Regions from separate parts of the Homo sapiens genome. Here region 2 is linked to region 1. Evidence: fine-mapped expression QTL. A gene starts in region 1. The other region holds a variant in brackets. All regions are shown on one strand. Distances are between the middles of the regions. Region 1 holds the start of ADAM28 (ADAM metallopeptidase domain 28). Region 2 overlaps ADAM7-AS1 (ADAM7, ADAMDEC1 and ADAM28 antisense RNA 1).

Region 1 (10,971 bases):
ACAAATTCCACTTGAAACACACAGGCACACACATACACACACACACATATATAAACATACATGTATAAATCCCATATCTATCTCTCATCATAGATAGATATATATATGTGTGTATATATGTATCTCAAATCAAGATCCTTTGATAAATCAAAAGCTGTACCTGTTGCTCTGGCTCTTTGGCCTCTCTTTTATGCAGTGGATGAAGTCTTATAGGATAAACCACTTCATACTTCTTCACCCCAGGGAGTTCTTTTATAGCACTTACTGAGAAAAAAGAAAAAGAAAAGACTTATCCAGGTAGAACTGAAGTAGGCTGGTCAGTAAAGGCCATCCTTACTGCATTCCCAATGAACGATGCCACACACAGAAGCCTGAAGTGATGAATGTCAGAGTGATTAATGTGCTGACACCAGAAGAGAGCAACAACCTCAGAAAGCTACTCTTTCCTCTTAAAGTTTTACTTTAGCCTATATCTTCAGATCCTTCCCCACTAAAAGTTTACAGGTGTTACTGTATTTAGAGAAAGTATTTCTTTTGGATTTTCCCACTTCTTATCTTTGATCCTGCAGTGCAGGGAAATAGCAACAGCTCAGGCAAAAAGAAGTGAAGATAGAAGCGAAAGTAATCCTCTGAGAAGCGAATCAGTCCCAGAAAAATTGGGTTGAAGCACTGGAAACCATACAATGTTAGAAAAATAAAATAACTAATGTGCACAATTTTTATTCTATTTTTCTTGGATTTGAAAACAGCAATATTCTATACTAATAAAAAAAAACTATGTCACAGTAAGAAAAGGCTCCAATACTAGGTTCATAGAATGAGCTGGCATAAGCAGTACAGAAAAACCTTATTTTTGCATACAGAACATTTAAAAAATGAAAATTAGAGAAGCAGATAATTCAAACAGAATCACTGGCCTGGAAGGACTTTTTTGAGCCTGCAGTCATATTGAAAGAGAACTGAAAAGTGATTTGATCCAACCTATCTGCATTTTAAATGCTCCTCTCCATGTTGTCTTTAGAAGTCATTTTGTTTTATTGTATTTTGAGACAATGTCTCACTCTGTCACCAAGCTGGAGTGCAGAGGCACAAACAGGGTTCACTGCAGCCTCAACATCCTGGGCTCAAGCCATCCTTCCACCTCAGCCTCCAGAGTAGCTGGGACTGCAGGTGTGCACCACCATGCCTGGCTTTTTTTTTTTTTTTCTATTAGAGAAGTAGTCTTGCTATGTTGCCCAGGCTGGTCTTGAAATCCCAGGCTGTAGCAATCCTCCTGGCTCGGCCTCCCAAAGTGCTGGGATTACAGGTATGAGCCACAGCACCTGGCCTAGAAGTCATTTTGGAGAGAGAGATTCAATTTTCTCGAAGCTAACATTAGATTTTCTATTTTCTTTTTGATTTGCCCATGTGGTCTAGTCTCTGCTCTGTATATAGTCGATAGACCTGCTCCTTAGCTGCTACAGGTGGCTACAGGCTTAACCAAAATGTAGACTGCAGTAGCAGAATGGGGCCTAACTCTACAACTTTCTAAGACTAAAACTGAAAAGGTTTTTTTCTCTTCTCTGAGTAAGGACTAGGAGGGTCTCTAAAGGTAATGCCAGCTCATTAAAGTACTCAAATCTTAAGTTCTATGGTGAGATACATTTATGTTACTGTGGTTGATCTTTTAACAAACATAGATGAGGCACTTAATAAGTATTATTCCTTGCTTATCTAGGAGGACTGTGCACTTACTCCAGTCACTTCCCACAGAGCAAAACATTGTTTAAAGTTTTCTTCAGAAACTAAAGCATAAACTTTCAAAAAACAGCGTTTTTTAAAAATTACTCGAGAATGACTTTAATTCATTTAACGACTCAAGAGTCACTTACATTTAACTTTGAAGAACAGAAAAAGGGTTTAAACCAGCTAAGAACTCTTTGAGTCAAAAATGGGGTGTTAAAGTAATGAACTATCTTTTCTTTCAGTGGTGTAAGAGTTACTCTAAAAAAAAATTCAAAATTACTTAAAGCCATGGCACTGACATTAGAATACCTTATTTTTTTTATTTGGTTTGAGTCTTTAAATAGTTTGAAAAAAGGACGCCAATTAAATGGTTTCTAAAGCTAGTTCAAGTGGTTTATGATTTATGCATACAAGTACAGAATCCCCTATAACCTCTTTCAAGAGTCAGTGATCATTAGGATAACTGAATTCTGATCCAATGTGATAAAATAAGCCTCATTACATTGTCACACTTCAAGAACAACATCACGGGGTTCTTCAGTTCCTCATTTCTTGCTGTCACAGAGGTAATCGCTGGGCGTCTTTTATTTCTATTAAATTAACTTTTGGTAAAGGAAAAGAATAACATCAATTATAAAAAATTTTTGAAACATAAGTTCAAAAACCTAAAGAAAAATTGATGATTCTTTTTCTGAGTTAAAATTTTTCTAATTATTGTAATTATTTTGAAACACTAAGATGCCAAGAGGTAAGAAAATTACTCCTGCCAGAAATTAACTGATGATATTGACACAATTCCCTGCTGCCTCCTTAATTCAGGGACACAAAACAAGCATACCATAAGGCACCCACGTGCTGCCTGGTACATTACAGTAGCTAATCAATGCAATTAGTCTTGTTAAGATAGAGAGTTCAAGAAGCCAAATTTCACCAATGTTGCAGCCAACATAAATCTTTTTAAATGCTATATTAGAACACACATGATTCTAACAGGAAATAGTAGTCCAAGCTGCCTTCGTGGAATAAAATAATAGCTACGTTCCCGATTTTTTGTATAAAAGCAGAAAATGAAGTGAGTTTCCTTCTCAGCACCATTCAGAAATGGTAAGAAGGAAAACAGGCTCATCTAGCCAACACAAATTTTCTCTCACATGCACCCTGACCTCTATGCTTCTAGTTAGTATCTGAATCCCAATGTTTCATGAAATTAGAAATTGCAAACTGGCTCTTAAATATGGGCTTAAAATATGTAAGTTATGTAATTTATTTCCAACTTTTTGGTGGCCGAACACTTCCAAATGGAAACCAAAAACAAAGCAAAATAAAACAAACAACAACAACAACAAAAAAAAACCCACAACATTTCTTTTAGAAATCATTGGCAACCTCTCAATCTCTTCAGTTTGAAGTGAATGGAATTCCAGCTCCTTCCAAACTCCTGTCACTCCATATATTCTCTAAAGAAACTAAATGGAATTTCTCTTAAAGGCTCTTATTTTCTGGAAACCTAGAAGTCCCTGAAATAATGGGATCTGGAATACAACAAATTACACAGCCATTGTAGGGATGTAACAGACCTAAATATTGTTTAGCTCATCCATCCTTAAGTTTAATGGAAATGGTGCAGCGTCTTCCCCACTGAATAACATCACGTTAATTATTTTTGAAGCCTGAGGAACAAACACAACTAACTGCCATCCAGGGATTACACAAATCCAAGGTGTAACACAATATGTTTTTACTAATTCATTTTAATACTTGCCTTCTCTCTCCCACAGAACTCACACACTGGATTAGTCTTGACTAGCAAAACCAGATCAGGAAAAAGAAAACTGTTATTTTGGTTTAGATGGGATAATTATTTTTGACTGTTTTGAGTCTTAGAAAAGCCAAAGCTCATTAACAACGTTAATATGAGAGACATTAGTCTGGATTGCTACATTATTTGTTCATGTGTTTGGGGTCATTTTGGAAATGGGAACATGAGTATGTAATATTGACATTTTCATTTTCGTTCAAATGTGTTTGAAACTGTTCAAAGAAATGTCTTCTTTCCAAACTGAACACATCATATTAAACGCTGAATTAGGGTTTACACAAGGATATTGACTTATGTCCTGGGATTCTCTGCATCTCCTCAAACCATCTTGTGGTTTTAAACTTCATGCATTAAAAGTGAGTACAAACAAAAGGGAAAAAACTGCATTTCTATTAGGTCTGTTATTTTGACTATTTAGATTAAACTGTATATTTTCTTTTCAGTCTTCCAGTTACCTTATAAAGGCAAGGAAGAACTGGTAGTTTGAAATAAAATAATTTCAAAAAGTGCTGTACCCCCTGAGTATTCTGCTGTAATAAGGTAAGCACCTTTCTCCTTTGTTGATGCAATCATTTACATCTTCACCCCGCAAACACCTGTCACATCCTTTTAAATATTTGTTTTTCCTTTTCCTAGGATGAAATCCCATAAGTCAATTTTTTCTCGGGATTGTGAAGTTCACTGCACACAACCAGCCTTATTTTACATCTCTTTCTTTTATTTCAACCATCTGGGGACTGGGCAGAAGTCATGGTCAGAGGGGCACATATGTATTGCTTTGATGATGGGGGCAGAGAACAAACAGGAAGAACTGGGAAATGAAAATTGCTTTACTTCTTATATTCTGACTAGAAAGGCAACCCAAATGGGAATCATAACAGGGATAGTTCAGTGGCAAAAAGACACCCTTAAAAATAGAAGCTAGAAGTTAAAGGAGGGGTGACATCACACTTTTAGAGTTGACATCAGAGGAAGTTGCATCTCTTGGTGCCATGTTATACATGCACCGTCGGGGCAGCAGAACTGATTAGTGTGCCCAGTTGCACAAAAGGACTGTAATGTGCATGGGCCCCAGTGTTAGCCATGTGACTCTGTTAATGGATCCAGCTTGATCTTTACGCTCTTCAACTAAGCTAGTGCCCAAGCAGTTCTTGTATTTCAGCTTAGAGGGGGTTCTGGAAAAGCTCTTGGTGATAGCATTTTTGGAGAACGGAGAGAAAAAAACATTTCTATTAAGTCTGCCTCAAAAAGTAGGAATTTCAGGTCAATGTTAAATGCCTGGCATGAGTTTTATATATATTTTTAATATTTCAGGCTTATTTTACCAAAAGAAAGCTGGTGTAACACGTTCACATCAGACAAAATAGGTATCAAAGCAAAAGGCATTAGAGATGAAGAGGATCACAGCACAGTGGGAAAAGGTTCAGTTCAGATATAGGTACATATTATATAAAGCAAAAATACACAGAAACAAAAGGAAAATAATTCGATATTTAAAGATATTAGGTTAAGTGAAATTTTTATAAGTCTTGAAAACAAATCAGAAACAGGTGAGACACAGGAAAATCATTTTTAGCAACAAAGTACTAAGAGGGTGCATGGACAAGGAAAACTTTTCCCTCCCTAAGCCCATACCTCTAGTTGATAATCTGTTCCCATCCCCAGGTCCCAGCAAACATTCTAAGACCCAAGAACAGGTTTACTGGGAGGAATTCGAGGCACTGCAGTTCATGTGCTGAGTTAAATAAGCTCTGGAAATAGAAGCTGAAGAATCACAATACCCAATCTAATTTAACCAAAGTCTAATTAGAGAATTTACCAGAAATTGAGAGACTTGCTAGACATAATTTCCTGTTAGGAAGTAGTATTTTTCTCCTTTCAAATTTTTAAATGTTTGGTATAATCAGCAAAATAGAAGTAAATTATCAATTTAAGCTTAACAGAGATATTTTGTTAAGTAATATCACAGTACCTTATAAATAAAAAATATTAATTATTTCCAGTTAGTCACACGTATTATTACTAATAATGAGTAAATACAAAAATATACACTCAAACAGAAAGAGCCAAACTGGCTCCCATAATAATAGTAGGTATTTTCCTAAGCCTTGTACACAGTAATAAATAAATAAATCTGCCACATCTTTACCATTCTTTAAATGACAAGCTGGGTTTTGATGAATTCCACTTTTTCAGTCAAAAATCATATTCATGATTTAAATTGTGCTGTATGAAATTGTCCCTTTTATTTCTGTATATTCTCAGATGAGATGCATACATATTGGTTCAAGACCTCTTGTTGCCTCTTTTTAACATTGTCTTTGTATCACTCGCAGCCCCCAAACAACAGGTTAAAACCAGCCCAACTGGTTAGTAAGATTGATTGAGAAAAAAGAAAAAGAAAAAAGTCAAAATAGTTTATACAATAAAACTATTAGGAGACTATGAAAAGTTCGCTAATGCATTCAATAGAACCTGAAAAAGAGCTAAATATGTACCTGCAACAGAGAGGAGGAGACTGACTGGCAGGAGACCTTGCAACATGCTGGGTGATTCCAGGAGCACGGTGTCTGCTCTTCTCGCTCAGGTGGGTGCTGCTGGGTCTGTCCCTGCCTCCTCTCCAGTGAGACAGAATGAAACTCCCTGGTTCATTCTTGTCTCTGATTCAGGAAGTGTTTACTAAAGGTGTTGCGCAACCTCGAAGCTGTGGTCCTGCAACAATGGCCCAGCAGGCGGAAGTCCTGGCTGCCTCCTGGCTCTAAGATTACTTGATCTGAACTATTGTTTTGCTCTCCTTTGCCATACTCCCCACTCCAAAGTAGTACATTTCCAACATATTACTATAGCCAGATAAGCTACAAGGAAAGAGGCAACTGCATTAATGAGTCTTGAAAAACATGCTAGACATTTATTTACATTACGGATATGATATATAAATATATGTTTAAATATATTTTTATATATATACAGTTGTAGGAAAAAAGTTATTAAGAATGTTATTTTTCCCCCACATACATAATGTGGTTATGTAAAGCAATTTCTAATTCAACCTAATTACTATATAGCATTCTCTTTTCCATTATTTTATGTTCTATTCCTCACACAAGTGTACTCTCAGGAAGTTTGAACTATCCTGAAATAAGAATGTCTGACAATATAAGCACAATAATTTTTAGATCCTTGGGGGTATTTGTGTCATAACTGGCAATGAGGAGTGTGGAAGAAGGATTCAAGACCCAAAGGATACAATTTTAGGATCTGTCACTGGTGGTAGTAAGGCTAAACTGGGCATGTCTAAAAATCATACTTATAACCAATAAAATAACTAATATCAACTGAGCTGCTTATTAAGTTTTAGGTACTGATAGGGTTTGGTTGTGTCCCTACCTGAATCTCATCTTGAATTGTAGCTCCCATAATCCCCATGTGTTGTGGGAGGGACCCAGTGGGAGATAATTGAATCAAGGGGCGGGCTTTTCCCATGCTGTTCTCATTATAGTGAATAAGTCTCATAAGATCTAATGATTTTATAAAGGGCAGTTCCCCTGCTCAGGCTCTCTTTGCCTGCCTCCATGTAAGATGTGTCTTTGCTCCTCCTTCACCTTCTACCATGAGAGTGAGGCCTCCCCAGCCATGTGAAACTGTGAGGCCATGAAACCTCTTTTTAATTTACCCAGTCTCAGATATTTCTTCGTGATAGTATGAAAATGGACTAATACAGGTACTCTCCTAAATCTACTGTACTTGTTATTTTATTAGTCTTTATGATACTCATGTATTATGCATTTACAATCATTTTGCAGGTGAAAATTTGGGGTTTTAAAGGCAAAATTCAAAAGATTAAGAATCAGTTGTCCCCTCATTGTATAGATTAAGAAGATTAAGCAGATAAAGTCACCTATCCAGTAAGTGGTAGAAGTGGAATCTGAACTATGTGTTGTCTGGGCTCTTAGTCATATACTCTAATGCTTTCCCTTGGCTTAGCTGACTTGTACTCCCAGTATCATTTCTATTGAAAAGATTCTGGGAGAATAGAAATAATTATGAAATTCCTAAGGAATAGAAATTACGCTGAGGACCAGTTATTACCACAAAACCTAGTCCTAGTCCACTAAAATCATGCATCATTTTACAGATTCTGAAACACATTCTCATACTAGAGGGATTACAGTGATTATTGATGTCTCCAAATGATTATACAGTCATCAACTAAAACCACAAAGGAATTTTTGAGTCTAGTTACTGAGCATTTTAACCATCAGGATTGCGATTCACAGATTTCTTGCCTTTTCAACCCAAGTTCCATTGCTTTGTCTTTTCCAGGGAACAGAAAGGATACTTCAACTTTTAATTATTACATATTTTTTCTCCATTAATTCAACGTAATTTTACTTACAGCTATTATGTGTCAGACACTGAGATTGCAGTTGAAAAAACACAATCATGGCCGGGAGTGGTGGCTCATGTCTGTAATCCCAGCACTTTGGGAGGCTGAGGCAGACAGACTACCTGAGATCAGAATTTGAGACCAGCCTGCCCAACATGGTGAAACCCCATCTCTACTAAAAAAAAAAAATTAGCTGGGTGTGGTGGTGGTCACCTGTAATCCCAGTTACTCAGGAGGCTGAGGTAGGAGAACTGCTTGATTGCTTGAACCCAGGAGGCAGAGGCTGCAGCGAGCTGAGATTGCAACAACACACTCCAGCCTGGGCAACAGAGCGAGACAGTGTCTCAAACAAACAAACAAACAAAAAACACAATCACTTTCATTGAGATGTTCACAATCTGACAAAGATAAGTTCAATTACCATAAAATTGCACAGAGTGAGTACCACCTATAAATGATCACAATATCACAAGGTGTTTAGTGTTACAATAGATTTATCAATAGAAGTCAGAGGTCTACACCAAACAGGGCAGGGAGTGCATCCTGGTGGCAGGAGTCCTGGGAAAAGGACTCCCTATTTCATAAATGGTGCTGGGATAGCTGGCTAGCCATATGCAGAAGAATAAAACTGGACCCCTACCTTACACCATATACAAAAATTAACTCAAGATGGATTAAAGATTTAAATGTAAGACCTCAAATTATGGAAAACCTAGAAAATGACATTCTGGACATTGGCCCTAGGAAACAATTTATAACTTAAGTCCTCAAAAGCAATTGCAATGAAAACAAAAATGGATGAGTGGGACCTAATTAAATTAAAGAGCTTCTGTAGAGCAAAAAGAAACTATCAGCAGAGCAAACCAACAACCTACATAACGGGTGAAAATATGAGCAAACTACACAGCTGACAAAAGTCTAATATCCAGAATCTATAAAGAACTTAAACAATTGAACAAGCATGAGATAAGTAACCTCATTTAAAAATGGGCAAAAGGGTGGGTGCAGTGGCTCATGCCTGTAATCCTAGCACTCTGGGAGGCCAAGGTGGGCAGATCACCTGAAGTCAAGAGTTCGAGACTAGTCTAGCCAACATAGTGAAACCCCATCTCTATTAAAAATACAAAAATTAGCCACGTGTGGTAGGCACCTGTAGTCCCAGCTACTTGGGAGGCTGAGGCAGGAGAATCACTTGAACCCGGAGGAGGAGGTTGCAGTGAACCAAGACTGCGCCACTGCACTCCAGCCTGGGTGACAGAGCAAGACTCCGTCTCAAAAAAAAAGAAAAAAAAAAAAAAAAAGGGTCAAAAGAAATGAACAGACACTTCTCAAAAGAAGAAATACAAGCAGTTAAAAAAACATGTGAAAAAATTGCCCAACATAACTAATTATCAGAGAAATGCAAATCAAAACAATGAGGTACCAACTCACACCAGCCAAAATGGCTATTACTAAAAAGTCAAAAAATAACAAATGCTGGTGAGGCCACAGAGAAAAGGAAACACACAATGTTGGTAGGAATGTAAATTAGTTCAGCCACTCTGGAAAGCAGTTTGGAGATTTCTCAAAGAAATTAAAACAGAACTGTCATTTGACCGAACAATCCGTTTACTGGATATATAGCCAAAAGAAAATAAATTATTCTACCGAGAAGACACATGCTTATGTTCATCACAGTACTATCCACAAGAGCAATGACATGGAATCAAGCTAGGTGCCCATCAGTGGTGGAATGGATAAATACAATGTGGTACATATATACCTTGGAATACTATGCAGCTATAAAAAAGAATTAAATTGTGTTCTTTGCAGCACATGGATCACCTAGAGGCCATTAACCTAAGTGAATTAATGCAGAAACAGAAAACCGGTACCTTACACCATATACAAAAATTAACTCAAGATGGATTAAAGATTTAAATGTCAGACCTCAAACTATGGAAAACCTAGGAAATGACATTCTGGACATTGGCCCTGGAAACAATTTATGACTTAAGTCCTCAAAAGCAATTGCAATGAAAACAAAAATGGACAAGTGGGACCTAATTAAATTAAAGAGCTTCTGTACAGCAAAAAGAAACTATCAGCAGAGCAAACCAACAACCTACATAACGGGCGAAAATATAAGCAAACTGCACAGCTGACAAAAGTCTAATATCCAAAATCTATAAATACTGCATGTTCTCAATTATACATGGGAGCTAAACGCTGTGTACCCATGGACATAAAGATGACAACAATAGACACTGGGTACTGCTGGAGAAGGGAGGGAAGAGGGGAAAAGGCTGAAAACCTAGCTATTGGATACTATGCTGAGTACCCGGGTGGCAGGATTATTTGTACCCTAAACCTCAGCATCACGGAATATATCCATGTAACAGATGGATATGTACCTCCTTGAATCTAAAATAAAAGTTGGAAAAAAAGAATTATGAGAATAAATAAGGACAATATATTATAGCACATTAGTTTATGGCTGGTAGTGTTTGGAATTGTTGGAGCAAAGAATGCCTGAGAGAATGGGAAGATATCCTGCTAAGTATTTGTGCTTGACTTTGACGCTGTGGTGAATGGTCACCACTGATGGGATCGAATGAGAAGTATAACCTTCCTGCTTGCTTCTTGAGGAGGGGAGTGCCCTGGAAATGGTGAATGATGACAGTCTGCATGCTGATCCATGTGGAATTTTAAATTGGCACTTGTTCTTCGGCTCTTTTCAATTCTCTTGTAGTCGTGACATGCCTTTGATCAGTTTGTTCCAGTTATCATTCTCATAATTTTTCATCATTCTTCATAGCCCAGAGTTATAATTCCCTTTACTGTCAAAGAATTTATACCAATCTCTAAATGAATTTTATTTTCTGCTTCCCTGGTTATTTCCTCAAAGTTGTATCAAGTAAGCATAAAAGTTGAATTTGGGCAGTCAGTTTAATTTTCCCTTTTGTTTCTTTGTGATAAATACAGCATTATCATTGACATCTTTCATTGCCATGACTTGTCAAACTCTTTGCCAGAATATAAAATATAAATGGCAGAAAGA
Region 2 (10,971 bases), 69 kb before region 1:
TATCTACCCAAAGGAAATGAAGTCATTTTGTGAAGAAGGCACAAGTACATGTGCATGTGCATGTTTATATGTTTATAGCAACACAACTCACAATTGCAAAGATAAAGAACCAACCTAAATGCCTATCAACCAATGAGTGGATAAAGAAAATGTGATGTATGTACACCATGGAACACCACTCCACCATAAAAAGGAATAATGTCTTTTAAAGCAACTTGGATGGAGCTGGAGGCCATTATTCTAAGTGAAGTCACCCAGAAATGGAAAAACCAAATATCCTAGGCTCTTCTAAGTGGGAGCTAAGCTGTGAGGATGCAAAGGCATAAGAATGATATAAGGGACTTGGGGAACTTGGAGGAGGTTAGGAGGGGAGTGAGGGATAAGACAACATATTGGGTACAGTGTACACTGCTCATGTGACAGGTGCATCAAAATCTCAGAAATTACCACTGAAGAACTTATCCATGTAATGAAACATCACCTGTTCCCCAAAAACTACTGTAATAAAAACAAAACATAATAATTTTATTCCAGGTAAAGTCAGAGGCTTTAGCAGTACCACCAGTTAAATATCCTATGTTTAGAATTTGAAAATTCTTTGGATAAACAGTTGACATTACAAACATATATTTTTGAATTTGAATTTTTTATAATCAAATTACTTTTGCTATTTCGGATACTAATTTGCATGAATAATCAAGATCAATACTTACAGCATACAATTAATCTCTTAAGATAATAGTAGGCATAAGATGTTGGTAGCCAACTAGAGCCGAGATATTTCCATTAAATCTTTGTTTCTTAATCAAGAGTATACATTAGATTCATCTCTAGAACTTATTAAAATACTGACATCTTGATTCCTTCCCTCTGTGTTCAGATTTTGTTAGTATAAAGTGGTTGGTATAAATGGTTCTTGATACATTTTGTCAAGAACCATTATTACATGAAGAACTCTTTCAATATTTTTAGAAAATAAAAAATATACATATTACTTTACTCTTATTTCTTTTACTCCATGCTGGATTGATTACAAACAAAATAATTAAAGGATAAGAGAACAAATATTGTAACAAACACCCTACATATACTTTAGTCACCGGAAAAGATCATCCAATATACCTAGGAATTATTCTGTAAGGAAAATACAGTTCCTCAAATAATCAACTGAGAACCTTTAAAAATTATAATTAATGATTAGGCAGTGATAAAACTGTAACCAATGTCACTAAAGCCACTGTGTTTTCAGATACTGAATTCCCTCGAAGGAAAATTTAAAGATGCTATGATCTATATTAAAAAAGTATTTCAAGTATTCTAAAAGTAGGTGAAATAACTTGTTCAGTGATGATATGAATAGGCAAGCTATTACTTGGCTTCCAAACTCATGATATGCAGCTCAGTTAGAAACAATTTTTCCATTACCCTGAGCAGTGCTGAAAGTTATTGATGAAAAGGTTGAGAGGGTGTTCTAATTTGAGCCTATGTCTCGCTTCCTGCTGGGGTTTATTTATGACTGTGTGTGTGACTGCAGTGTGGTTAGGGCAGGCAGCCAAGAGTCTGTAGCCATGAAGTACTGAGGGGCTCCCAGGGTGGGGAATCAAGCAAAAGGTACAGACAGGTTCTCTAGTTGGATACAACAGCAACACCATCCTGAGTACAAATTTTAGGTCTCAGAAGCAAAAAGAGCTGTGCTCAGTCTTTTTTATTTTTATTCACTAGGCTGATTTTGTTGTGTTTATGTGGTTTTGCTGTCTCCCATGATGGTATGTACAGCTCAGTCTTAACCATTAATTTTTATTCACTTGGCTGATTTTGTTGTGTTTATGTGGTTTTGCTGTCTTCCATGATGGTATGTTTGTTCTTTATAGACACTGTGAGTCTCATATAAATCCTGTTTACTTTTCTTGTTTACTTTTTTATTCTTAGATAGTTTGGAGTACAGTTTGGAGCTCATATTTATCAAACACGTAGGGCCGTATATTTTAAATTTCACAAGTCTCATCTGACCCATGGCTTTATGGTTTCTAGAACTTTCTTGCTTTCTGATTTTCTTAAATGTTCATTTTTGGGGGGTGTTATACTTTTCTAAATCTCCTAAGTTTGTGTATGCACAAATATGTATGTATCTTTGATGAAACATGGTATATATAAATACCTAAACGTATTCAAAAATAACAATTTTTGGTTTTCCATAGTCTTGATGATCTGCTTGCAGTTCCCTGAACATGTCATGGCCCTTGTGGATTCATGACTTAGCAAGGCTATTATTTAACTCCGTTATTTTCTAGAAGACTTTTTTTTCTCTTTTTCCTTTATAGATCTGATAAATTGCCTAGAGTTCAAGATTTAAACGGCACCTCCTCTGAGAAACTTCTCATGCCTTCTCTTGATAAACATTTCCTCTGTACTTTCTTGTTCTCATAGTTTAGCAATTTATTTTAGTGATTATTTATTTCTATATTTATGTCAGTCTCTAGAGCTAGGATGAGAATCCCTGGACGGCAGGGAAAGAGGTTAATCCTTCTAGCTCCAGTGTCCACTTAGTAAATGGAGACTTTGTAAATGTTTGTATTGCAGAATTACAGAAAACAACCAGATAAGTGTAAATTACACAATGTATTAAGCTCAGAATCTTGGTGGAAGACTTTTGTTAGTTGATTTATTGAGTGCTTACCATTTCCCAGGCTCTCTGCTAATCACTAGTAACAAGAATGGGGAAAAATGAGAACGGATTTTCAGGAGTAGAAAATCAAGGGGCATAAGATTTGACTGCAGCAGAATGGCTATTACTAAAAAGTCAACAATGGATGATGGCAAAGCTGTGGAGAAAAAGGAATGCTTTTACATTATTGGTGGGAGTATAAATTAGTACAACTGTTGTAAGAGAGGGTGTGGCGATTGCTCAAAGACCTAGAGGCAGAAATACCTTTTGACCCAGCAATCCCATTACTAAGTACATAACCAAAGGAATAGAAATTGTTCTGTTAAAAAGACACATCCACTGTCTGCATTGCAGCACCATTCACAATAGCAAAGACATGGAATCAACCTAAATGCCCATCAGTGATGGACTGGATAAAGAAAATGTGGTATATAAGCAACATGGAATACTATGCAGCCATAAAAAGAAATGAGATCATGTCTTTTGCAGTGACATGGATGGAACTGGAGCACATTATCTTAAGCAAACTAACACAGAAACAGAAAACCAAATATGACATGTTCTCACTTATATGTGGGAGCTAAATGATGAGAACAAATGGACATATGCAGGGGAACAGCAAACACTAGGGCCTGTCAGAGGGGGTTGGGAGGAGGAGAAGATCAGAAAGAATTGCTGATGGATGTTGATCTTAATACCTGGGTGATGGAATGATCTGCAGCAAACCACCATGGCACCTGTTTACTTACCTATGTAACAAACCTGCACATCCTGCACATGTACCTCTGAAGTTAAAATAAAAGTTGGAAATGAAAAAATTAAAAAAAGATTTGACTGCAACTTCAGATACACTTTCACTGGAAACATTGCCTAGAAGAATTTGTTGCTGGAGATAAAATAGAATTCTCATATTTAATAATATAGTATTAAATGTGCTTCTCAGTGCAAAATAGTTTTGCTGCAGACAGTGTGGTTGTGTGAAAGGAAGTAAGATTCCTGTGCAAGACTGTCATAAATGTTAAGTGAAATTATACATGCACACATACGAACACACAAAAATACACACAAACTTGCATAAATCAGAATGTGCTACTGTGTACTTTTGTTATTACCTTATGATATCCTTACTTTAAGAAATAATCAAATTTGAAATTGGCTATGACTTTATTTTCTAAAAATTGTATGAATTCAGTCCATGTTAATTTCCCCAAAATATGAATCCAGGGTCTTTGCACAATGCAGCCTCAGATCTAGGACAGTATTTTATTTGGCCCAGAAGTTCTGACTGAGATTCAACTTAATTATATAAGATGAGAAAACCGAATAGGATTACGGAGAAAATTCTAAAAGCACATCAGGAGAATAAAAGACCAAGGAAAAAAGACTCGGCTGGGCACAGCAGCTCATGCCTGTAATCTCAGCACTTGGGGAGGCTGAGACAGGAGGATGACTTTAGCCCAGGAACTTGAGACCAGCCTGGGAAACAGGGAGACCCTGTCACTAAAAAACATTTAAAAATTAGGCAGGTGTAGTGGTGCATGCCCATAGTTGCAGCTACTCTGGAGGCTGAGGTGAAAGGATCACTTGAGCCCAGAAGGTCGAGGCTGCAGTGAGTCACGACCATGCCACTGCACTTCAGCCTGGGCAACAGAGAGAGATGTTGTCTCAAAAAAAACTCACCAGTGAAATACGTACTCACCAATGAAATATGTACAAACAGCAAGTAATTATTTCCCCAAACCTTACTTTCTGCTTAAAGACATATGATGCAATAGACTGTTCAGAGAGGGTCTCTGTGCTGACAAGCTCAACAACGGAGTCCTCCTTCAGGTAGGCACTGATGGATACGTGCTACTTGCCTTTCTAGATGATGGACATTTCCCTCTCTTCTCTTTATATTTTCATGCTGCCCTTACATGTTTCTTAGAAAATCCTCTTTGGGGCAGGGTGCAGTGGCTCATGCCTGTCATCCCAGCACTTTGGGAGGCCAAGGTGGGTTGATCATGAGGTCAGGAGTTCGAGACCAGCCTGGCCAACATGGTGAAACCCTGCCTCTACTAAAGATACAAAAAATTAGCCAGCCGTGGTGGTGTGTGCCTGTAATCCCAGCTACTCAGGAGGCTGAGGCAGGAGAATTGCTTGAAACCAGGAGGCGGAGGTTGCGGTGAGCCGAGATCACACCATTGCACTCCAGCCTGGGCAACAAGAATAAAATTCTGTCTCAACAAGAACAAAAAAATCCTGTTTGAATATTGGCAAGTCATACATTTTTAATTTCATTTTATAGATGAGTAAATGTACAGATTGTATACTTAAGACTGGTAAAATCAAAGAATTGAAATTATTTGCATAAGGCTAAAGAGCTAGTTTTTGGCAGAGCCAGGAGGACTATCTATACTTTGTTTTCTGTGTGTGGCTTACCATCCTGCACCAAAAACTGACTTTTCTCTTATTCTCTTGTCTTTATATTTCTGCTACATTTTCGTTCCCTTATTTCCTATCTGAGACTGCAGCTTTCCAGTGGATCTACTCAGCCCTGCCATGGGCACAAAAGAACTGAGAGAGTTTTGCCAGGAACTGGCTCCTGCAGGCTCCATTTCAATTATACTTACAACATGTCTCAAGAGACCCACGAATCTCAGAGCTATTCCACAGCAGTTAGAGAGATCAAGGCCAATTTGGCAACACATGTTGATTTACAAGGGAACAGTGTTATCTGCTGAGACATAGCACTTGGCCTGTGCATTGGAGTCTTCTCTATGAGAAATGGAGCAACTTTTGCGGTCCAGCAGTTGATACCTGCTTTCTCAAAAGCTACTGGGACATCAGGAGGGGACCGTTATCTCTAGTCATAGCATCATCATTTCATTTTTCATTTAGATAATTTTCTGAACTTCCTTAAATTGTTGTTCCCATCAGGATTGCACAGCTAAGATTTCAACATTGAGCCATTGTCTGTGCTTGGTCAACTAAGCTTAGAAAGAAACAATGGATGTGGTTCTCATGAAGAAGAGAATAGCAATAACTGATTTAAATGAGGTTCTAAAATACTAGGAATAAAGTATGTATCATTATCCATTTTAAAATAGGTTTGCCATCAAAAAAAATTGTAAATTAAAATGTATAAAGTGGAGAAAAACAATGTTAATTTGAATGATGACATGGAGCAACAGAAATTATCTCCAGCCCTCTCAAATAGAAAATAAATATATTAAAAGATGATTAGGTTATTTAGCCTTAAAAATAAATGAAATGCTGATAC[G/A]TGCTACAATATGGATGAAACTTGAAGACATGGTGCAAAGTGAAATAAGTCAGACACATAGATGGAAAAATACTGTATAATTCCATTGATAGGAGCTACCTAGAATAGGCAAATTCAGAGACAGAAAGTGGAGTAGAGGTTACCAGAGATTGAGGGGAAAACATAACGGGGATTTATTGTTTAATGGATATAGAGTTTCTGTTTGGAATGACGAATGGGTCCTGGAAATAGATGGTGGTGGTGGTTGCACAGCACAATGAATGTACTTATGTCACCAAATTGTATTCTTAAGACTGGTTAAAATGGTAAATTCAATGTCATATATATTTTACCACAATAAAACATAATATTTGAGTTAAAACAAAGGATTTTAGGTAGCTGAAGGACTCGACATGAGGACTGGAGAACCAAACTTGGTAGCTATGCAATGAGGAATTCCAGCCTGTATCGTGGAGCTGAATAATACAGAATGTCTGTCTCACCCTTGCCAGTCACTCAGCTGACACTGCTGATACTCCTTGCACTAGACCAGCCTTGAACCAGCAATTGGCACTAGTCTCAAGACTTCCTGAGGAACTCAACCTTATTATAACAGTGTGCATCACCAAAGATAATTCTCTGTAATTTCTGCTTTATATTACATACTTCTGATTCAAAGTTCTGGGAGGGTACATCTGAAAGGTAGATCCTTGGCCATAACTATGTCATAGGTGCAAAAGAGGGTTGGCCAGGCACTGTAGCTCAAGCCTGGAATCCCAGTACTTTGGAAATCCAAGGCAGGCAGATCACTTGAACCCAGGAGTTCAAGACCAGCCTGGGCAACATGGCAAGACCCCTTCTCTACAATAAATACAAAAATTAGAGTGTGGTGGTGCATGCCTATGGTTCCAGCTACTTTGGAGGCTGAGGTAGGAGGATTGCTTGAGCCTGGGAGGTTGAAATCACAGTGAGCCAAGATCATGCCACTGCACTCCAACCTGGTGCAAGAGAGGAGAGCAAGACCCTGTCTCCAGGAAAAAATAAAAAGAATCTGGTAACAACATGCAGAATATTTCCAGTTGCCACTGCAAATAGCAAAGGAGCTATATCTCCAAGATGTGCAATGTGGGAATCCTCTAAGCAAGGAAAGGTGTTAAGATAGGCAGGTATTAAGAATGAGAATGCCTATGTGGAAACAGTTTCATAAATTGCTAATGGAAATTTAAATTCATACATATTCCTACTAGAGAAAAATTTTTGCAAAGTGTAGCAAAAAAGTTGGAAAACTTTTAGGGGGCTAGCCAACATATAGAGTACTATCCAAAGGAAATAAGAAGTAATAAACGTTGGGTGTTGTGGATCACATGTGTAATCCCAGTGACTTGGAAGGCTGAGTCAAGAGGATTGTTGAGTCTAGGACTTGGAGACCAGTCTGAGCAATGCAATGAAACCCAGACTCAAAGAAAAAATAGGCCTTGTTTTGGGCTGCACAGGTCGCCATTAAGCACAGAAGAACTTATCCCCCAATTGTTGGCTGTGCTACCTGCAGACAGCCATCAACTTGCCTTGGAAAATGCTTTCACTAAATAAAGTCATCTTGCCCAAGGTCACAGCTCTTTTGAGAGCAATTTGTACCTGGAAAATGCTTTCACTAAATAAAGTCATCTTGCCCAAGGTCACAGCTCTTTTGAGAGCAATTTGTACCTGTGACTAGTTGACATGAGGGAGTAAAAGCTTTTCCCTTTTGCCTCAACTTGGCTTCATTCTGAAGGATAGCCCAGGTTCAGGGCTGGCTGGGCCAGCTAAAGCCTTCTTTGAGGCAGCATCATTCCCAACTCCTCCAGCCTAATCCTGCTTTCTCCCATTCCATTAAACAAATAGGGGACCTGACCTGAAAGCCCTCCATAATAAACTTCCTGGCTGCTAAAATCCATCTCAGATTCTGCTTGCCCAGGAACCCGAACTGTGATACAGAGAACTGCCTTTAGATGGTATATACACCATTGTTCATCACTGCATTATTTTAGCCATAAACATTTTTGAAAAAAGATTTCATTGTTGAATCAGATATTAAGTAAAACATTATTCATTAATAAAATAGTATTGATGGCTGCATAATATTCTTATAGATTTGTGTCATATTACTAAGTAAAATTAAAAGCCATAATACAAATAGCATAAATATTGAATTAATACTTAACTTATATACCAGACAGAAAAGAGAGGAAAAGGTCATATTTCCAAGTGTTGATTGAAATCATACTTGGTGAGATTAGGAAAAATTTTTGTCTTAGTACTTTCTCTTGTTTCTCAACCTTTCTATATTAAGCATATATTGTTTTTTAAATTTTTTAAAAATTATACTTTCAGTTCTGGGATACATGTGCAGAATGTGAAGGTTTGTTACTATAGGTATACATGTGCCATGGTGGTTGGCTGCACCCACCCACCCATCATCTACATTAGGTATTTCTCATAATGCTATCCCTCCCCTACTCCCCCACCCCGCAACAGGCCCCGGTATGTGATGTTCCTCTCCCTGGGTCCGTGTGTTCTCATTGTTCAACTCCCACTTATAAGTGAGAACATGTGGTGTTTGGTTTTCTGTTCCTCTGTTAGTTTGCTGACAATGATGGTTTTCATGTCCCTGCATAGGACGTGAACTCATCCTTTTTTATGGCTGTGTGGTATTTCATGGTGTATATGTGCCAAATTTTCTTTATCTAGTGTATCATTCATGGGCACTTGGGTTGGTTCTAAGTCTTTGCTTTGTGAACAGTATCACAATAAACATACGTGTGCATATGTCTTTATAGTAGAATGATTTACAATCCTTTGGGTATAAACCCAGTAATGGGATTGCTTGGTCAAATGGTATTTCTGGTTCTAGAACCTTAATGAATTGCCATATTGTCTTTCACAATGGTTGAACTAATTTACACTCCCAACAGTGTAAAAGTGTTCCTGTTTCTCCACATCCTCTCCAGCATCTGTTGTTTTCCTGACTTTTTAAGGATCACCATTCTAACTGGCATGAGATTGTATCTCATCGTGGTTTTAATTTGCGTTTCTCAAATGACCAGTGATGATGAGCTTTTTTTCATAGTTTGTTGGCTGCATAAATATCTTTTTTTGAAAAGTGTCTGTTCATATCCTTCACCTACTTTTTGATGGGGGATTTTTTTTTTCTTGTAAATTTAAGTTCTTTGTAGATTCTGGATATTAGCCCTTTGTCAGATGGATAGATTGCAAAAATTGTCTCCCATTTTGTAGGTTGCCTGTTCACTCTGATAGTTTCTTTTGCTGTGCAGAAGCTCTTTAGTTTAATTAGATCCCATTTGTCAATGTTGGCGTCTGTTGCCATTGCTTTTGGTGTTTTAGTCATGAAGTCTTTGCCCATGCCTATGTCCTGAATGGTATTGCCTAGGTTTACTTCTGGAGTTATGGTTTTAGGTCTTACGTCTGAGTCTTTGATCCATCTTGAGTTAATTTTTGTATAAGGTGTAAGGAAAGGGTCCAGTTTCAGTTTTCTGCATATGGCTAGCCAGTTTTCCCAACACCATTTATTAAATAGGGAATCCTTTACACATTGCTTGTTTTTGTCAGGTTTGTCAAAGATCAGATGGTTGGAGATGTCTGGTGTTACTTCTGAGGCCTCTGTTCTGTTCCATTGGTTTGTCTCTCTGTTTTGGTACCAGTACCATGCTGCTTTGGTTACTGTAGCCTTGTAGTATTGTTTGAAGTCAGGTAGTGTGATGCCTCCAGCTTTGTTCTTTTTGCTTTTTTTTTTTTTTTTTGGGTGGAGTCAGTCTTGCTCTGTCACCCAGGCTAGAGTGCGGTGGTACGATCTTGGCTCACTGAAACCTCTGTGCCCTGGGTTCAAGTGATTCTCCTGCCTCAGCCTCCTGAGAGCTGGGATTACAGGTGCCCGCCATCCTGCCTGGCTAATTTTTGTATTATTGGTAGAGATGAGGTTTCATCAACTTGGCCAGGCTGGTCTCGAACTCCTGACCCTCGTGATCCACCCACCTCAGCCTCCCAAAGTGCTGGGATTATAGGCATCAGCCACTGTGCCTGACCAAGCATACATCTTTTTACAGAAGAAAATTAAATAAGTATTTTATATTTGTGATTTGTCCAGATTTTAAAATAACATTGTCAAACTATTTAAAGTAACAAATAGTTTTAACTTTGTGTGAGGTGGGAGCAACATAAACGACTTAGTCATCTTAGTCATTTAATATTGAGATGTCAGATATATCCCAAGAGTATGGACTTTAATATGAGGTGAAGGAGATAAACCGTTTAATGTTCACAAGAAGTTGCCTTCACAATAAATTGTATACCGTAATTTTCATGCTTAGGATTTTTTTTATAACAATAGTATTCGCTTAGCATACTACTAACAGTAATAGTGATACTGTATTAAGTGTTGGGCATTGTAGCAGACCACCCAGGCCTAGTTGCTAAAAAGTGCCTAACATTGTCAAGGGAAAGCCTTTTTATGGAAGCAGCAAAAGAGACAAAGTGAATTCAAGGGCAGATGTGCCAACGTGGCTACAGATTTTGTTAGAGGTGTTTTCTCCTGAGTTGGGATCTTCCCTGACAAGGTGGAGCTCAGTATCTCCACACAGCTGTGCCACTCTTGGCTTGGCCCACTTTGGAGAAAAAAAATTGAGGAGAAAAGAATATGCAAGACTTGCTTATCACCCCAACCATTTCCATATTTTTCCATATTACATCCAGATGCTAGTGTATGCAAATTATTTAGCTTACGCTCAAGAGATGGATTCTTTGAACAATGACATATGATGAAACAATATTAAAGCTGATAATAATATTGGATGCACCAACTGAAAAATAGCAATATAACACTTAGGAAATAATGGTGTCTTTGAATGATGGGGAACATACTAGTCAAGTGGCTGAGAAAGCATGTACTTCTGAAAAATATTTACTGTGGGAAGCAGTAATAAAGTTTATACACATTTTGCTTTAATTTTTAAAATATCTGGAAATATAAGTTAAAAACAGTTAATTGGTTAGCCTTTATAAAATTAAACTG

What was found.
Region 2: its variant is fine-mapped to the expression of ADAM28 in whole blood (TOPMed, PIP 0.99).

The regions. Positions count from the first base shown.
Region 1 is chr8:24,289,267-24,300,237 of GRCh38, reverse strand. It overlaps ADAM28 (ADAM metallopeptidase domain 28), which reads right to left and starts at 6,169. Exons shown (of 23, transcript NM_014265.6): 1 at 6,043-6,169; 2 at 161-264. The coding sequence starts at 6,088. It overlaps ADAM7-AS1 (ADAM7, ADAMDEC1 and ADAM28 antisense RNA 1), which reads left to right. Exons shown (of 6, transcript NR_125808.1): 5 at 3,988-4,084; 6 at 4,181-4,424.
Region 2 is chr8:24,358,057-24,369,027 of GRCh38, reverse strand. The region is part of intron 3 of ADAM7-AS1 (ADAM7, ADAMDEC1 and ADAM28 antisense RNA 1); the gene reads left to right. ADAM28 (ADAM metallopeptidase domain 28) reads right to left here. Exons shown (of 23, transcript NM_014265.6): 23 at 10,014-10,971. Among named protein-coding and RNA genes, the nearest start is that of ADAMDEC1, 21 kb to the left of the region's middle. The variant G/A (reference allele first, on the strand shown) is at 5,928.